4 linked regions of the Homo sapiens genome follow. The protein of the gene in region 4 purifies or fractionates together with the protein of the main gene of each other region. This does not show direct contact. Each region holds a gene or a part of one and is shown on either strand. Other genes may lie near its edges.

Region 1 (3,500 bases), on a different chromosome or scaffold from region 4:
CAACCTCCATCTCCTGGGTTCACGTCATTCTCCTGCCTCAGCCTCCCAAGTAGCTGGGACCACAGGCGCCCACCGCCATGCCCGGCTAATTTTTTTTTTGTATTTTAAGCTGCAACCTGAAAGATGAGCAGAAAGGTAACATACTGGGGGGTGGGGAGCTGGGGGACTGTGTTTCACACATGGGGAGAAACACTTACTAAGGTCTGGAAGAGCCTGGAGAGCTATTCTGAGGTTGGTGCCCCTGTACACTACACATATAAAAATGGTCTATAATGGCATAAACAAGTGTTGGGATAAAAAAAGCTTTTAGTCATACTTTAAAATATATCAGAATATACTTTAGCATACAAATAACATATTAAATATAAATTTATTTTATCTGCAAGGGAATACTAGGCAGCATATTGCTAGCTCTAAAATCAAACTATTATATGTAATTTTTGGTCTGTAAAAACAGCTCCTAATTTAGATTTTCAATTTACAGATTAACTTTTCCCCACTTACTCTAATTTAATGTGTTTTTAACTCAAGAATCTGAGAGAATGTATGATTTTTAAAAGATAATGTTTACACTGTAAGAACAAGGAAAAAAAAACAGATGGTGGTTAAAAAACAAAGATTGGCATGGATATTCACAAGAACTTCAATGGCCCAAAGTATTTACATACAAAGCTAAAATATTAAACTTGAAGAAATGAAATTAACATCTCTTCCTGAGAATCTGATAGACAGCACAATTTATTATTATAGCCAATGTAAAATTTCTTAGTAAAGATGCTGGTAACAAAAATAATTGTAAAGGTTATCAACAGAACTGATGCTTGTAATTAAGAGTAAAAAACCAGTGTGGCAGCTCATGCCTGTTATCATCCCAGCACTTTGGGTGGGCAAGGCAGGCGGATCACGAGGTCAGGAGATCAAGACCATCCTGGCTAACACAGTAAAACCCCCGTCTCTTACTAAAAATACAAAAAAAATTAGCCAAGCGTGGTGGCACGCGCCTGTAGTCCCAGCTACTCAGGAGGCTGAGGCAGGAGAATCGCTTGAACCTGGGAGGCGGAGGTTGCAGTGAGCCGAGATCACACCACTGCACTCCAGCCTGGGTGACAGAGCAAGACTCTGTCTCAAAAAAAGAGTAAAAAATCTGTATGTGCTTGTAATCTTAGCTACTCAAGAGGCTGAGTCAGGATTGCTTGAACCCAGGAATGTGATACTAGCCTAAGCAACACAGCAAGACTACCTCAAAAAAAAAGTAAAGCACATTAATGGAAGTATAAATTGATACAATAACCTTTATTATAAAGTAATTTGGTAACATGTTATTTTTAAAGTCTTAAAAATATTTTGACCTAGAATTCCACTTTTAGAACTCTGGACTAAAGAAATGCAGATAGCTGTATGCATGAAGATACATTTTCAGCAGTATTTATTTATTTTATTTTATTTATTTTTTTGAGACGGAGTCTTGCTCTGCCACCCAGGCTGGAGTGCAGTGGCGTGATCTCGGCTCACTGCAAGCTCCGCCTCCTGGGTTCACGCCATTCTCCTGCCTCAGCCTCCTCAGCAGCTGGGACTACAGGTGCATGCTGCCATGCCCGGATAATTTTTTTTGTATTTTTAGTAGAGACAGGGTTTCACTGTGTTAGCCAGGATGGTCTCGATCTCCTGACTTCGTGATCTGCCTGCCTCTACCTTTTCAGTAGTATTTATAATAAAAAATAAGAAATACAGAAAATGTACAACAGTAGAGAAATGGTTGAATAAATTATACTAGTGAAGTTTTTTTTATAGCCATTAAGAAGTATTTTTAGGCCGGGCATGGTGGCTTATGCCTGTAATCCCAGCACTTTGGGAGGCCGAGGTGGGCAGACTGCCTGAGCTCAGGAGTTTGAGACCAGCCTGGCCAACATGGTGAAACCCCATCTCTACTAAAATACAAAAAAATAGCCGGGTGTGGTGGCGGGTGCCTGTAATCCCAGCTACTTGGGAGGCTGAGGCAGGAGAATTGCTGGAACCCGGGAGGCAGAGGTTGCAGTGAGCCAAGATTGCACCACTGCACTCCAGCCTGGGTAACAGAGTGAGACTCTATCTCAAAAAAAAAAAAAAAAAAAAGGAATTTTTATGAAGATTTTTAATAGTATGGAAAATTATGTTATAAAGCTAATATTTAAAAGCAGATATAAAACTACATAAATAATTTTAGCCCATAAAAAATATAAAGAAAGGGCCAGGTGCACAGGACCAGCCTGAGTAACATGGAGAGACTCTGTCTCTACAAAAAATAAATTGGCCAGGTATACTAGTACGTGCTTGTAGTCCTAGCTACTTGGGAGGCTGAGGTGGAAGGACTTCTTGAGCCCATGAGTTCAAGGCTACAATGAGCTATGATCATGCCACTACACTCCAGCCTGGGTGACAGAGCTAGACTCTGCCTCTAAAAAGAGACATAAGACCAAAATGAAATTTACCAAAAGGCAATATACCAATCAAAAAATCAACAATGACTGCCTCAGGTAATGGAATGAGTGATTTTCCTTCTTTTTCTTTATACTTTCCCCAAATTAAGCACATATTACTTTTATAGTAAGAAATATATATGTAGGAAACACATTTCCAATTTAAAAAATTTACTTCTTCTATTAACATGAGATTATAATTTTAAAAACATCATCCAAGCAAATCACCCAAGACATTCTGTAACAGCATCTTCTCTATATAGAAATACCTTTGGCAGGTTGTATACATGACGCTGGTAGATGAGCTCATAATGGGGAGGGTTGATAGCACTCTGATAAATGCAAAAAACATTCTCATTTGTAACATCTGTAAAGGAAGGCAATATGCTGCATTAAAAAACCAAACCCCCAGAGATATTTTGTGTGAAAATCTCAACACATTCTTTTAGGAGAGGTTTATACCTGGTTTATTTGGTGTCTGAACAAAGTGCTGAGAAGTAAAAGTTTTTCCGTCGGGATACTTCGGATGTGGAGGTAATCTGGAATCAAGGTAGGTGCAAAATACATGCATGATGATCTGAGGATGAAGAAATAATTTTTTTTTAAGTCAGCATGAAAATCTAGCATGGATGTAGAACCCTTTAGAAACATCTGTATTTATAACGATTCCAATTAAAAAATTTTTTCTCTGAAGAGTGAATTAGAAAAATGCTGTCAAATGGTTAGATTTACAAGATAAAATCTATAGAATAAAAAGATAAAAACACATAGTTCAGGTAGCACACCTATTCTTTTAACTGAAAGTATTATTTCCTACAAAGATAAGGAATTCACTAATTCCTCTCTTAAATCATAAAGGAATTCAGTGTGTTTAAGACATGAAGCTAGGCTTAATTCAAATAATCTACTCAAAATTTAAAATAGAAAAAGATATTTGCCATCAAATCAGTCTATATTTTGATGAGAAGGTTTCCTTTTCAAATTGAAAAAGTTTGAATACTCCAGCCTACGAAGTTACCATAATCTGTTGAGGGTAGGGGTGGA
Region 2 (3,500 bases), on a different chromosome or scaffold from region 4:
TGGAGTGGAATGACACTGGAGAGGTTCGCAGGGCCCTGTTCATGTAAAGCAATAAAATAAAGGCATCAGAATTCATTTTAAGTCTTTGGGAAGCCAGTGAAGAGGTTTAAGTTACGAAGTCATGTGATCTGGGTTGTGTGTTAAAAGTATCCCTCTGGCTTCTTTGTGAAGAGGAGGTTGGGAGGCAGAGGGTGAGCCAAGAGGTGGGGTCAGTCTTCCGGGTCAGAGATGACCATGGCCCAGACCAGGCTGATGGCAGTGCAAGAGCAGAGAAGTCTTTCCTCTTCTCCATCTCCAAATTACTGAATTATTTCAGGCCCTCATTCTATCTCATATTGACCTTTGCAAAAGCCCTCCTGGGGCACACCTCTGGGTTTATATGCTCCTAATCTGTCCTCCACACTGCCTGCCAAATAAATTTTGCCCCTCTTCTGCTCAGAGACTCCAACTGCCCAGCCCCCATTCACCCCCATTGTCTTATAAAGTTTCTCAAAAAGATGTGAAGGATATGTCACAATGACCCAGGAGCAGTTTCAAATACTCCTGACCTGGTTCCACCTGACATACAGAGCCATGATCTCTATATTTTTAAGCAATTCTCCAAGAGGTGCAAATAAACTACTCTTTTATCTTCCCTGTCACCCCCAGAAACCCAGGCCTAAAAGAAATAACTTAGCTAAACCCAAGATCTGTCCAGAATTGCCACAGCTGGCCTAATTTCCGCTCACACTCTATATCTCACCATCTCCTTCCTGTTATATCTTTTATGTTCTTCCTTCAATTTGGAAGGAGAGAAAATATCTTCTTGCATTTTCTAGGAGGGCAAATAGGTAAATAGGTGATTATAAGACAACAAGGTGGATACTTTGGTACAGGGCTGAATTATCAAAAGATGTCAGAAAAGGTAGTAAGATTCATTCTGAATCCTCCAGTAAGTGGAACAGGGTTTATAAAATAAGATTTTGATGAATTAATGAATGAATCAATGAATGAATGATGACTAGAAACAATAACCATTACTTGAGGAAAAGAACAGAAGCATGTTCCTTCTTTTAGCTGCATAGATGGTATAAAACAGTGATTACTTTAGAATAAGGAAGGACCGTTTAAATTAAGACTTCTTTTAAGGCAATGTGCTCCAAATGAAAAAGGACTCCACTAGTTGGGAAAGACATTTTATTTCCAAGTTTCTAAGAGTGTTCTACAAACAATAGAGGCTTAACGAAAAAATAAAAGGTAAAAAAAAAAAAAAAAAAGAAAAAGAAAAACAAGTATTCTTAACTACTGAAAAGTAAACAGCCTTTTTAAAAAAGACTTCAACATAAAAATGCGAAAATGTAGTTGTCATCTCTAATCCAAATACATTCCTAGAGAAAAGGATCATCCATGGTGACAGGGTTACTTACAGCTGTATACTTATTTAAATGCTATTCATATTCCTTTTGAGTTATTTCTTCATTGCAAATTCAATTGGAGATCTGTGCAAATCTAGCAAAATATTCTTTGGATTACAAAAACTATATAAAAAAATGAACACAACCTGCAATTATGGAAGTATTGAGAATGTGTAATCCTTCACTGAGATGAAAGATTCTAAAGTGACATTGTCCACAAAATGTATTCCATTGAAGTGTTCAGCCCAATTTGATTTCAATGCAAAGTAAAATGGAAGTGAGCACTTCATAAAAAACATTTCTTTGTATGCATGTTGACTAAATCATAAAAATAGTACATAACATGATATCAAGAAATGCTTGAAACAAACTTTCACAATAAAGTCAGAAAAAAACTGTAAAAATTGTCTGCAATCCAAGAAAAAGCACGTGCCCTGTGTGTAGGGGGAAAGAGGGAAAGCACTTGCAGTGTGACTTTATGTGGTCTTTCCCCAAGTATTGCTACGTTTTGACCTTTGGCCCAACTGAACAGGTGAAATGCCCTTCACATAAGTTTCAATCCCCAAGAAACTAGCTGGAATGCAGGGGACTGTAGACACACTCCTGGACCAAATGGCATCGACTCTCAGAATCCAAAATGGTCCCTGCCCTCATTCTGAGCTTACGGCCCCAAGCATATTCTAAACAAAGCTTTTTTAAATGAATCGCCCATTCTCATTAAAACATAAAATGCCACATCATTTTACAATTAGTTAAAATTACAGGAGGAAAAATAAGCAGTTTCAACTATCAAGAGTCTTACAATAGCCTGGTAAGTTCAACAGAAGAAAAAATAGAATAACATTAGAGTCTGGGCAAATTTATATTTTTGACTCTAGTCCCCCAGTTCCCCAGTGCTCAGTGTGGGGCATAGAATGTATACCTGGAACATTAGAGTTCTGATAGCTCCATTCCCTCATGGATTCATCTCTCATAACCATCAAATTACTGATATACAAGATAAATGCATACTATATAACACATATTGCAAAGTCATAGACTGACCTAGTTCTTTCACATCCTTCTTTTTTAGAAGATGTGTGTGAAGAGAAGCCAGGAGGTTAACACCAAGAATGTACAAAAAAGCTTTACATGATGTTACAGAATCTTGTCTGAAAAAACATTTGTAAAACATATTTGATTTTAAATAAACAATAAAAGCAGCAGACAGACAACAACAGATCATAAATAGGGTTATTAAAAGATCACAATTAAATTAGAAATATAAATGGATCATTAGAAATACTTAACGTTTGTTTCAATGTTAAGAATCAAACCCAGAATTAAAAAAAAATCTTTTTTTATTTCAAAGATTGCTTCTTATATTGAAGCTCATATTAAAGCAACAGTACAATGTTCATAAAATATAAGTGTGATGCCGTAACATTTTCTTACATGTCAGAATACTGATATTTATACGTATACTAAAATAAGAACTTTAAAATTGTACAAATAGATACATTAAAAATGACATAGAAATAGGGCGTCTCTCACTGAAACAAGACAGTTATATCTGGCACGTATTAGTTTAAGATGAAAGTAGAAGCAAAAAGATTTACAAGAATCAGCAGTAACAAGATTGATGCTCAAGAGACATAATTGTACATTGTATTGTACATACATTGTATGGGTTTAAGCTGGCTGAATATTATATATTTCAAGTTTAAAAATGCACTACATATAGAGTGTCCAGAGTTTAAGGCGAAATTACAGCTCAGAACTGTTGTCCTTTCTAATTTTGTGGAAGCTTCTTTGACAACTTAAAAAAGAAGAAAGACTTGGATGTTCATAACACATAAACAATTTCCCTTCATTGTCAGTTCAGCGTTAGACTTCTCCTTCACTTAAATATTTTGTATGCCAAGTGTTTTTTTTTTCTAGCGAAGTTGATAAACAACTTCAATATTTGCCTTTTTGTGAGAAAAGGTATTTCACAGTATTTACCACTTTGATGTCCTCGCAGTTTTATTAAATGTATCCTCTCTGTAAAACTTTGCCTGTTTTAAATGAGCCTTTCCTTGATTTAAAAAAATACCTGTTTACACATCTTCTAGATTCTTGAGAACG
Region 3 (3,500 bases), on a different chromosome or scaffold from region 4:
GCTCAAACTCAGGACAGCCAGCCCACATCCAGTGTTTCCTGCAGGCCTGGCACCACTCCCAATGTCAACTTGTCTCATCCTCACAACAGTCTTTGAGGTAGCATCAGTCATTATCCTGTGCACAGAGGAGTCCACGGCCACCATGGCAAAATCACTTGCACGAGGTCACACACCGGAATTGGAACCTGGTTGTCTGAGTAGACATTGTCCCTGAACTACACTGGGTGTCTGGGTCCACTCCGTTTTGGAGATGAGACCTCAGGTCCTTTGGAGAGTCTCTCCCCTTCAGACCATGTGACCCCTTAGTTACCCCAGAGTGGGGTAGCGGGTAGAGGGACCACACGTGGCCTGCCCTGGCTGTTGTGATGTGTCAGGGGTAGGCCTGGGACCCCAGCAGCCAATGAGAGTAAGCTCCGTGGTCCCCTGTGGGGGGAAAAGGGTGGCCTCCAATGAAGCCAACCCTGGAGATGGGCACAGGGCAGAGTGGGCACGAGAGACTGACTCTTACTGCCATTGAGTGACCAAACCCGGCCGTGCCTAATGTGAGACGCCTCTGGACTTTTCTCCAGGACGTGAGCCAATCAGTTCTGTCTTCCATCCATGCTTCCATGCTTTCCCCTGCAATGCTGTGGGGTGGGGACTCTGAGCGGCTTCCTCATTTTACAGAGGAGGACACTGAGATCCGGAGAGGGGAAGTGCCTGCCGCACGGTGGGGTTTCAACACAGGACCCTGCAGCCCCGCAGCCCCGAGCCCTGCCCGAGCGGCGCCTCCTACCTCATCCAGGAGCTCCACGGAGGCCCGCAGGATCTGCCTCCACTTGTGCACCTCCACGCTGTGGAATTGCTTCTGCAGCGCCAGGATCTCGGCCCACTCTGTGGCCGTCTGGGGGAACTTGCTGTGGGGATGCCAGGCCTGAGCAGGGCCTTGGCCTCCCCCGATGTGCCCAAGCCCCCCCATTTCCCCAGGCTACCCACTCACCCCTTGGCCAGGGCCAGGCTGTGCCAGGACTCAAAGGTGTGGGCTGTCCTTTCCAGGGACCAGAGGCGGTAGAAGAGCAGGACGTTGAGGGCGATGAGGATGATAAGGCTGGGGACAGGGGTCAGAGGTCAGGATTCCTGGGGTCTAGATGCTCTGAACACCCCCAAACAACTACATCTTGTAGGGACACCTCTATCCCCCATTGCAGAGGAGGAGAATTAGGCTCAGAGAGGATGAGAGACATGCCTAGGGTTGCACAGTCCATAGCAGGGAAGTCAGTGTTCAAACCCAGGTCTGTCTGATGCCCATACCCTTGACTGCCATGCCAGGCCACCTCCCTGGGGGAGCTGGGGGGCATGGGGTGGGGAGAAGAGGCTGCAGCAGGGGTGGGGTGCAGGGAGGGGAGGGCAGGGGGAGGACTCGGGACCCTACCTCACACAGATCCTGCAGCAGCAGCAGTGAGGGGAGACAGAGAGATGAGCGCCGCCTGGCCTGCCCCCGACACCCCCAGCCCTCCTCACCCGGGGCAGCTCTTGGCTGAGAGCACCACGCCCCCTCACTGGATGAGAGCTGAGAGCTGAGGCTCAGAGGCTGAGCATGTAGCTGGCCTGACCCTCACCTCGCAGGGTCTGCTCAACCCCGGGATCCTGCTTCTGTTTCCTCCCAGCGTCCTGCCCGCCAACTCCTGCAGGCTTCTGGGCAGGAGTGTGGGTTCTCCCTGCCCAAGCCCTTAGCCTACGCGGTCTCCACTCTCTCAGGACGCCCATCCTGACTGCCCCCTCTGGCCTGGGAGGAAGCCGCCGCTGGCCTCCCAGGGCTTCCCCACTCCCAGCCCCAACCCCTCTGCCCATACCTCCCCCATCCCAGCCCGGATCACTCTGGTCTGGTGTGAGGTCTATCTTTTCCTCAAGGTCACTGCGGTGTCCTCAGCATCGCCCAGCTTAGGAGTGGGCACAGAGAACATAATGTCCATAAATGACCTCACTTGTTAGGCACACCTCTCCCTGTGCACCTAATTCCAGAATCTTTGTGTGCCTGCTCCTCCAGAAAGCCCCCCTTGATCCTTGGGTGAGGTCAGGCCCCTCTGATCTCCCATAGCCCCCCCCGGCTCTGCTGTTCTAGCAGGGAAGGCTTCTCCATGACAAACCGGCACATCCCAAACATTGCCTTGTCTAATCCTTGCTGTGAGCAAACCCACGCTCCCACTTAAGCAGAGAGCTCAAAGAGGCCACACACTTGCCCAAGGTCACACAGCCAGGAGGCAGGTTCAGGCCTGTGTGGCCACTGCTCCTGTCTCTTACTCACACAATGCTGATGAGAACCAGGGCACTGGGGATGCCTGCCCCGGGGCCCTGGTCCACAGATGGTTCGGAGAAGCGGGAGCTGAGGGAGCCTGCAGGAGAGCAGCTTGGAGTCAGATGGCCCAGTCCAGGACCCCCGATCCTCCGCCTACCCCAACCCGGCCCCAACGGAACGTACCCGAGGTGTGAATGCCGGCCCGGGCACAGGGGTCAGGATCTGGGTGCTGGGGCCCGTCCCCGTGAGCCCGCCAGCTCAGGGGCCGCTTCCGCCGCCGCAGGCCGGATAGCAAGCCCCGGGCATCCTTCCCGCCTTCCTCCAGAGACAGCTTCTCAGCCTTGGCGAGCTCTCGCTCTGCGTAAAAGAGAGGGGGCTCTGGATGTCCATACCTGGCCAGGCCATCCCCCAACCCACGCCCCAGCCGGCCTTCTGTCCCTACCCAGATGGTGGAAATAGTCTTCAATGCCGCTCCACGAGTTCTTCTCAATGAGCGACTTCACCAGGCTCCACGGCTGCTTTCGGTAGCGGATCTCAGAAGACACTCTGGGGTTGGGAGATCAGGGGAAGGAGGTAAGGGTCTGACTCCAGCCCTGGCTGCCCCGTCCCACAAGCTGAGTTTTTTCCTTCCCCTAATTCAGAGAGGGCCCCTTGTCACTCACAGACAAAACAGATGGGTTCCCTACCCCCCATGGCTTCCCTGGATACCCCATACACCACCCGCCCAGCCCAAATGCCAGCCAACTCAGCCCTCGGTCCTTCTCCACCCATGCCCACTACCTGGGCAACGCTCCCGGCGGCCTGAGCCCTGTCTACTCACAGACTGACGTCTTAACCAGACCATGCCCCTGAACCTCTTCCATTCGGCTGCTGCACCCCAGCTCCACATGGGCTCAGCTCAACATAGACAGCTGAGTCCCAAACTGACCTCCTGGTCTTTCCCCAAACCCATTCCTCCCTGCCGCCCCCATCTGGGTCAAGGGCAGCTCCGAAGTTGTAGTGATTTGGGCCAAATGCCTCGGGATATTCCTTGAGCTCTCTTTCCCTCACCGCCACATCCAATCTCTCAGCAAATCCTGTCAGCTAAACCTGCAAAATCTCTCCAGAATCTAAACTCTTCCCCCTCCATTTCCTCACCCTGATTCAGCCTCCGTCCCCTCCAGCCTGGATGTCCCAGCAGCCTCCTCCCTGGCCTCCCTGCTCCTGTACCTGTCTTTGCAGTCTG
Region 4 (4,271 bases):
CGCATAAGATTGCGCTGTGTAGGCAGCGGAGCTGCTGGGCGCGTGTTCCCCGCAGATTCCCCGCTCAGGGCCTTTCGCGCCCCGGCCCTTCGCGAGCCACGGCCCCAGCACGCCCGGGCCCCCAGAACGCACCAACAGCACCACGCTCGTGGTGCCTCAGGTTGTTAAACCAGCCGTCATAGCGCTGCACTTCCCAGGGCAGTGAGAGTGCGTCCTGACTGCCTGTGGGCACAGAGAAGGGCCTCCTCAGCACTACGCTCCCAGCTACCCCTCCCGAGCAACGAAGGCCTTGGCCAGTCCTTCCCCAGCTCGCGGAGCGCCCCTAACCGGACCCAAGTGTCGGGCCGCACTGGGAAGTTTCCCATCCCGCTGAGCTGCACGGCGAAATGACCTTCCAGTCTCAGGGAGCCGCTTGCCGCACCTCTCCCCGCCCCACCTCCCAGGGATCCTGGGGAACACCCCGCCGCTAGAGGAGCCTGATACTTGCCCGATGGACCCAGGGATCCAGTCAGAAGAGCTCCCAGGAGCATCAGTGCCTCTGGTCTTGCACGGAGCATGCCAACCCTGCAGCCTGCGGGGTGAGGGTGGGGGTGGTAGGTGGTATGCGAAAGCCACTGTTAGGGCGTCCTCTATGCCTCCCCTCTTGTTCCTACAGCTAGTACTGGAGGAGGAGCACCAGCTGTTTCCACTTCTGGAAGGTAGCTGTTAGAAGCATCACCGAGGACCTTCATCCAAACGCCACTCTTTCCAGGACAATTGGCAGCTCTGGAGGCATTGACACTGTTCCCCATCCGCCACCCCATCAGAGAGTTAACCCCCGACCATAGGAACCCACTGGGCAGGAGTCTTCTGGGGCATGTCAGTCCAGGGCAGGACTGGTCAAGCCTCCCAGGGTGTGCCCAATGTCTCCAATGTTTCACCTCCACCCGCCCCCGATCCGTCAGGCTCCGCTTCTCCTCCAGGAGGCAGGGAAGGGAAAAAGGTTACTGACCTGGGAGTGAGGGACTGCAGCACCCTTCCACAATGAATCCCCCCTTCCCCAATAAACTCCCCTTCTGCAATGAACGCCTGTGCATGATGGGCGAGGGCTAGGGTCAGATCCCAAACTCTGGTCTAACCTGTGGTTTAGGGTGGTGTTGGGTTCAGATGTCTTCTTTCCTCTTAAAATCTTTGCTTCTGTGCTCTACTTCTTGCCTTCACCCTCACTCTTCCAGCTCCGCCGATCCTCAGCCTCCCCGGCTGCACTCTCACCTTTCTCTCTGGGTCCTTGGTCTCGCCACTGTGCAGGTGTCGGCTCAGGACAGACCTGCGCCAGTGTGAGCATCTGGACCTAGGGCTCACCCTCCTGCCGTGGAGGTGGGGCCCTTATTTGCACAACCTCTTCCAGCTCAGACCAGCCCCTGGGCTGGGACACCCGTGTGGCACGTCGCCCACGCTGCTATAAAAGGGGTCCCGCGCGACTTCCAAACTCAGCGCCAACCCGCAGAACCAGGAAAGTAACGGCTACAGACAGTGAGAAATAGTTTCGCTCGCCGGCTAGAAAAACTCTGTCGGTACCAACCCCAGAGCGTTGAGAGCAGCCCACCTCCACGCTTCCTTAACGGAGAGGTGCAGGACTCAGACTTCACCAGCCCACTCGGTCCCAGCCTTGTACGCAAAGAGACGCCAAGGACGCGCTCTCCCGCGTCCAGGCAGCCCCAGCTTGCTGGCTTGCCTGCCCGCCTGCGTGCAGCACTCGGCCGGCGTGCAGCATGACCCTGTGGAACGGCGTACTGCCTTTTTACCCCCAGCCCCGGCATGCCGCAGGCTTCAGCGTTCCACTGCTCATCGTTATTCTAGTGTTTTTGGCTCTAGCAGCAAGCTTCCTGCTCATCTTGCCGGGGATCCGTGGCCACTCGGTAAGGGTGTCCTCATAGTGCAGGTAGAGTGGGGGAAGGCTCATGGGCAGATTGTCTCCTGAGGGACCCAGGACAGGTAAGACTGTACAAGAGCCTCCATGAATAGTCGAATTGAGGCTCAGGTGGAGTGAAGTCAGGAGTCTGGTGCAGCAAGCACCCCTTTCCAAGGATAGGGAGAGCTCCCCATCCAGGATATCCTGGAGAAGGACCCCAGCTGGGTCCTTGGGAAGGCTGCTGCAGAGAATGGGCACCCAGTCCAGTAATCCTGAGGAACAGTCTAGGCTTCTTGTGCTGGAGGGCCTCCCACCTCTCCCAGGACTAAAGCTGCACTCTCATCCCATCCGGTGGGTGATGACCTTCAGGCCAAAAGGACAGATGCCAGCAGCTCAGACTGCAGTGTTCCCCTTTGCACTGGGTTGAGACACATGTGTATGGGTGCCTCATCCTCAGGACTGAGACTCCCACATTGGATTAGAAGTTGGAGCCAACTGGGTGCATTGTCTTAGACTTTCCCCCTCTCCCAGAACCTAGGTTGTGCATTTTTCAGTTCTGGGAGGACCCAGCTTTTCTGCATCTTAATCTGTGTTGCTTTCCCTGGAACTGGTGCACCTAGGAGTATCTGCATTCCCACCTCCTCCCCTCGGAGATCAGGCTGGGGCCTCCCTCTTCTGAGGGAGGTGACCCCTGCGTGCCTAGCACTTCTGGACTCACTGAGCCTCACCAAGCAGTGACTGGACCAGGAGGCAGAACCAGGACCAGGCGCCAGACAGCTAGGGGAGTGAAGGTGGTGGAAGAGTGCCAGGAAGTGGGGGTGGAGGGGAGGTGCTGTTAGGGTAGATGGGAAATGGGGCTAGGGAGGTGAAAGTGCGTGGTCACAAAATATCAGAAATGCCAGTAGCCCAGAGGGACTTGCAGGAAAAGCGTGCCTAACATTAGTCTCAAAAGTCTGGATATAACTAAAGATCCAGGTGAAGTGGGGTCAAGGGTGGTCTTGGGGACTCTGGTTTGGCAGGGCTCAGGCCTGACCCGGGTGCCTATTCCTGCAGCGCTGGTTTTGGTTGGTGAGAGTTCTTCTCAGTCTGTTCATAGGCGCAGAAATTGTGGGTGAGTGTGTGGTGCAGCCCATGGGGAGAGGACGGGGTGAGGAAGGAGGTGGGCAGAGGGCACCTGGGACAATAGGGAACTGGGGTTGGTTTTCTGCTCCCTCTTCCCACTCTCCAGCTCCTTCTAGGGCCCACTTTTTGGCCCTTACCATGCAACCACATTGGACCTCTAAGTCCCCATCTCTCTGCAGTGTCCCACCTCCCATACCACTCTCTAATTCCATTTTCCCACCCTCATCCCACCCCCACCGTGTGCCTTTCCCTACAGCTGTGCACTTCAGTGCAGAATGGTTCGTGGGTACAGTGAACACCAACACATCCTACAAAGCCTTCAGCGCAGCGCGCGTTACAGCCCGTGTCCGTCTGCTCGTGGGCCTGGAGGGCATTAATATTACACTCACAGGTGAGGGGGCTGGGGCTAAATGAACTCCTGGAGCTGGGAGATCCCCGGTTAGGTGAGTGTGTCAGGGATAGCTGGAGGGCCTCTCACATCCCACAAGCTCAAATAGCTTGTGGTCCTCGTGGATTTGCGTTTTCTCCAACCACCACCGAACCCATTTCTCCCGCCGAGAGCGCCACACCCCCACTTTCCTGTCTGAATCCGCTTAGTTGCGAGGTCTCCGACCGCGGGCAGCCCCATGAGCCCGCCTCACCCCACAGGGACCCCAGTGCATCAGCTGAACGAGACCATTGACTACAACGAGCAGTTCACCTGGCGTCTGAAAGAGAATTACGCCGCGGAGTACGCGAACGCACTGGAGAAGGGGCTGCCGGACCCAGTGCTCTACCTGGCGGAGAAGTTCACACCGAGTAGCCCTTGCGGCCTGTACCACCAGTACCACCTGGCGGGACACTACGCCTCGGCCACGCTATGGTAAGTGCTGGAGGGAAGGCTGTGTGCACGTGTGTGTGTGCCAGGAGCTGGGCCGTATGAGCGGGAGGATGCAGGCCTCGGAGGCGCTGAGCAGCTGCAGCCAGACCCGACGCGCTCGGGGTGGGCATGACAGCCTCGCGGGTTAGAAGATCCACGAGATCTGCACAGACGGAATCCGGAGAGACTCCAGCCACCGCCTGGACCTCAGGAGCCCGCTTCTCCCCCGGGGAATTCCCCTGCACCGCTGCCATCCCAGTCCCTGGCTTTGACGCTGGGGTAGGGATAAAGAAGAGCGCAGCTGTGGGAACCCCGGTGGGCTGGGAGAAGCCCGCTCACAGCGGGTCCCCCCACTCCCCGGCAGGGTGGCGTTCTGCTTCTGGCTCCTCTCCAACGTGC

Evidence for each region. The genes of interacting proteins can lie anywhere in the genome.
Region 1: the proteins of DUOXA2 (region 4) and TMEM209 purify together in Homo sapiens (affinity purification with mass spectrometry; one large-scale study listed by BioGRID and IntAct). This does not show direct contact.
Region 2: the proteins of DUOXA2 (region 4) and CDH11 purify together in Homo sapiens (co-immunoprecipitation; one large-scale study listed by IntAct). This does not show direct contact.
Region 3: the proteins of DUOXA2 (region 4) and GRAMD1A purify together in Homo sapiens (co-immunoprecipitation; one large-scale study listed by IntAct). This does not show direct contact.

The regions. Positions count from the first base shown.
Region 1 is NC_000007.14:130,170,907-130,174,406, forward strand, and holds part of TMEM209 (transmembrane protein 209), read right to left. Parts: intron 3,034-3,500; coding exon 2,919-3,033; intron 2,824-2,918; coding exon 2,726-2,823; intron 1-2,725. UniProt on the Homo sapiens protein: Nuclear envelope protein which in association with NUP205, may be involved in nuclear transport of various nuclear proteins in addition to MYC.
Region 2 is NC_000016.10:64,944,064-64,947,563, forward strand, and holds part of CDH11 (cadherin-11 isoform 1 preproprotein), read right to left. Parts: 3' UTR 1-3,500. UniProt on the Homo sapiens protein: Cadherins are calcium-dependent cell adhesion proteins. They preferentially interact with themselves in a homophilic manner in connecting cells; cadherins may thus contribute to the sorting of heterogeneous cell types.
Region 3 is NC_000019.10:35,020,823-35,024,322, reverse strand, and holds part of GRAMD1A (protein Aster-A), read right to left. Parts: intron 2,822-3,500; coding exon 2,718-2,821; intron 2,633-2,717; coding exon 2,459-2,632; intron 2,373-2,458; coding exon 2,285-2,372; intron 1,424-2,284; coding exon 1,412-1,423; intron 1,088-1,411; coding exon 980-1,087; intron 897-979; coding exon 776-896; intron 627-775; coding exon of another isoform or gene 582-626; exon of another isoform or gene 538-581; intron 1-537. UniProt on the Homo sapiens protein: Cholesterol transporter that mediates non-vesicular transport of cholesterol from the plasma membrane (PM) to the endoplasmic reticulum (ER).
Region 4 is NC_000015.10:45,112,855-45,117,125, forward strand, and holds the start of DUOXA2 (dual oxidase maturation factor 2), read left to right. Parts: upstream 1-1,471; 5' UTR 1,472-1,751; coding exon 1,752-1,898; intron 1,899-2,944; coding exon 2,945-3,002; intron 3,003-3,269; coding exon 3,270-3,404; intron 3,405-3,610; coding exon of another isoform or gene 3,611-3,661; coding exon 3,662-3,875; intron 3,876-4,236; coding exon 4,237-4,271. Other genes in the region: DUOX2 (dual oxidase 2 isoform 2 precursor), read right to left, coding at 133-222, 488-557. UniProt on the Homo sapiens protein: Required for the maturation and the transport from the endoplasmic reticulum to the plasma membrane of functional DUOX2. May play a role in thyroid hormone synthesis.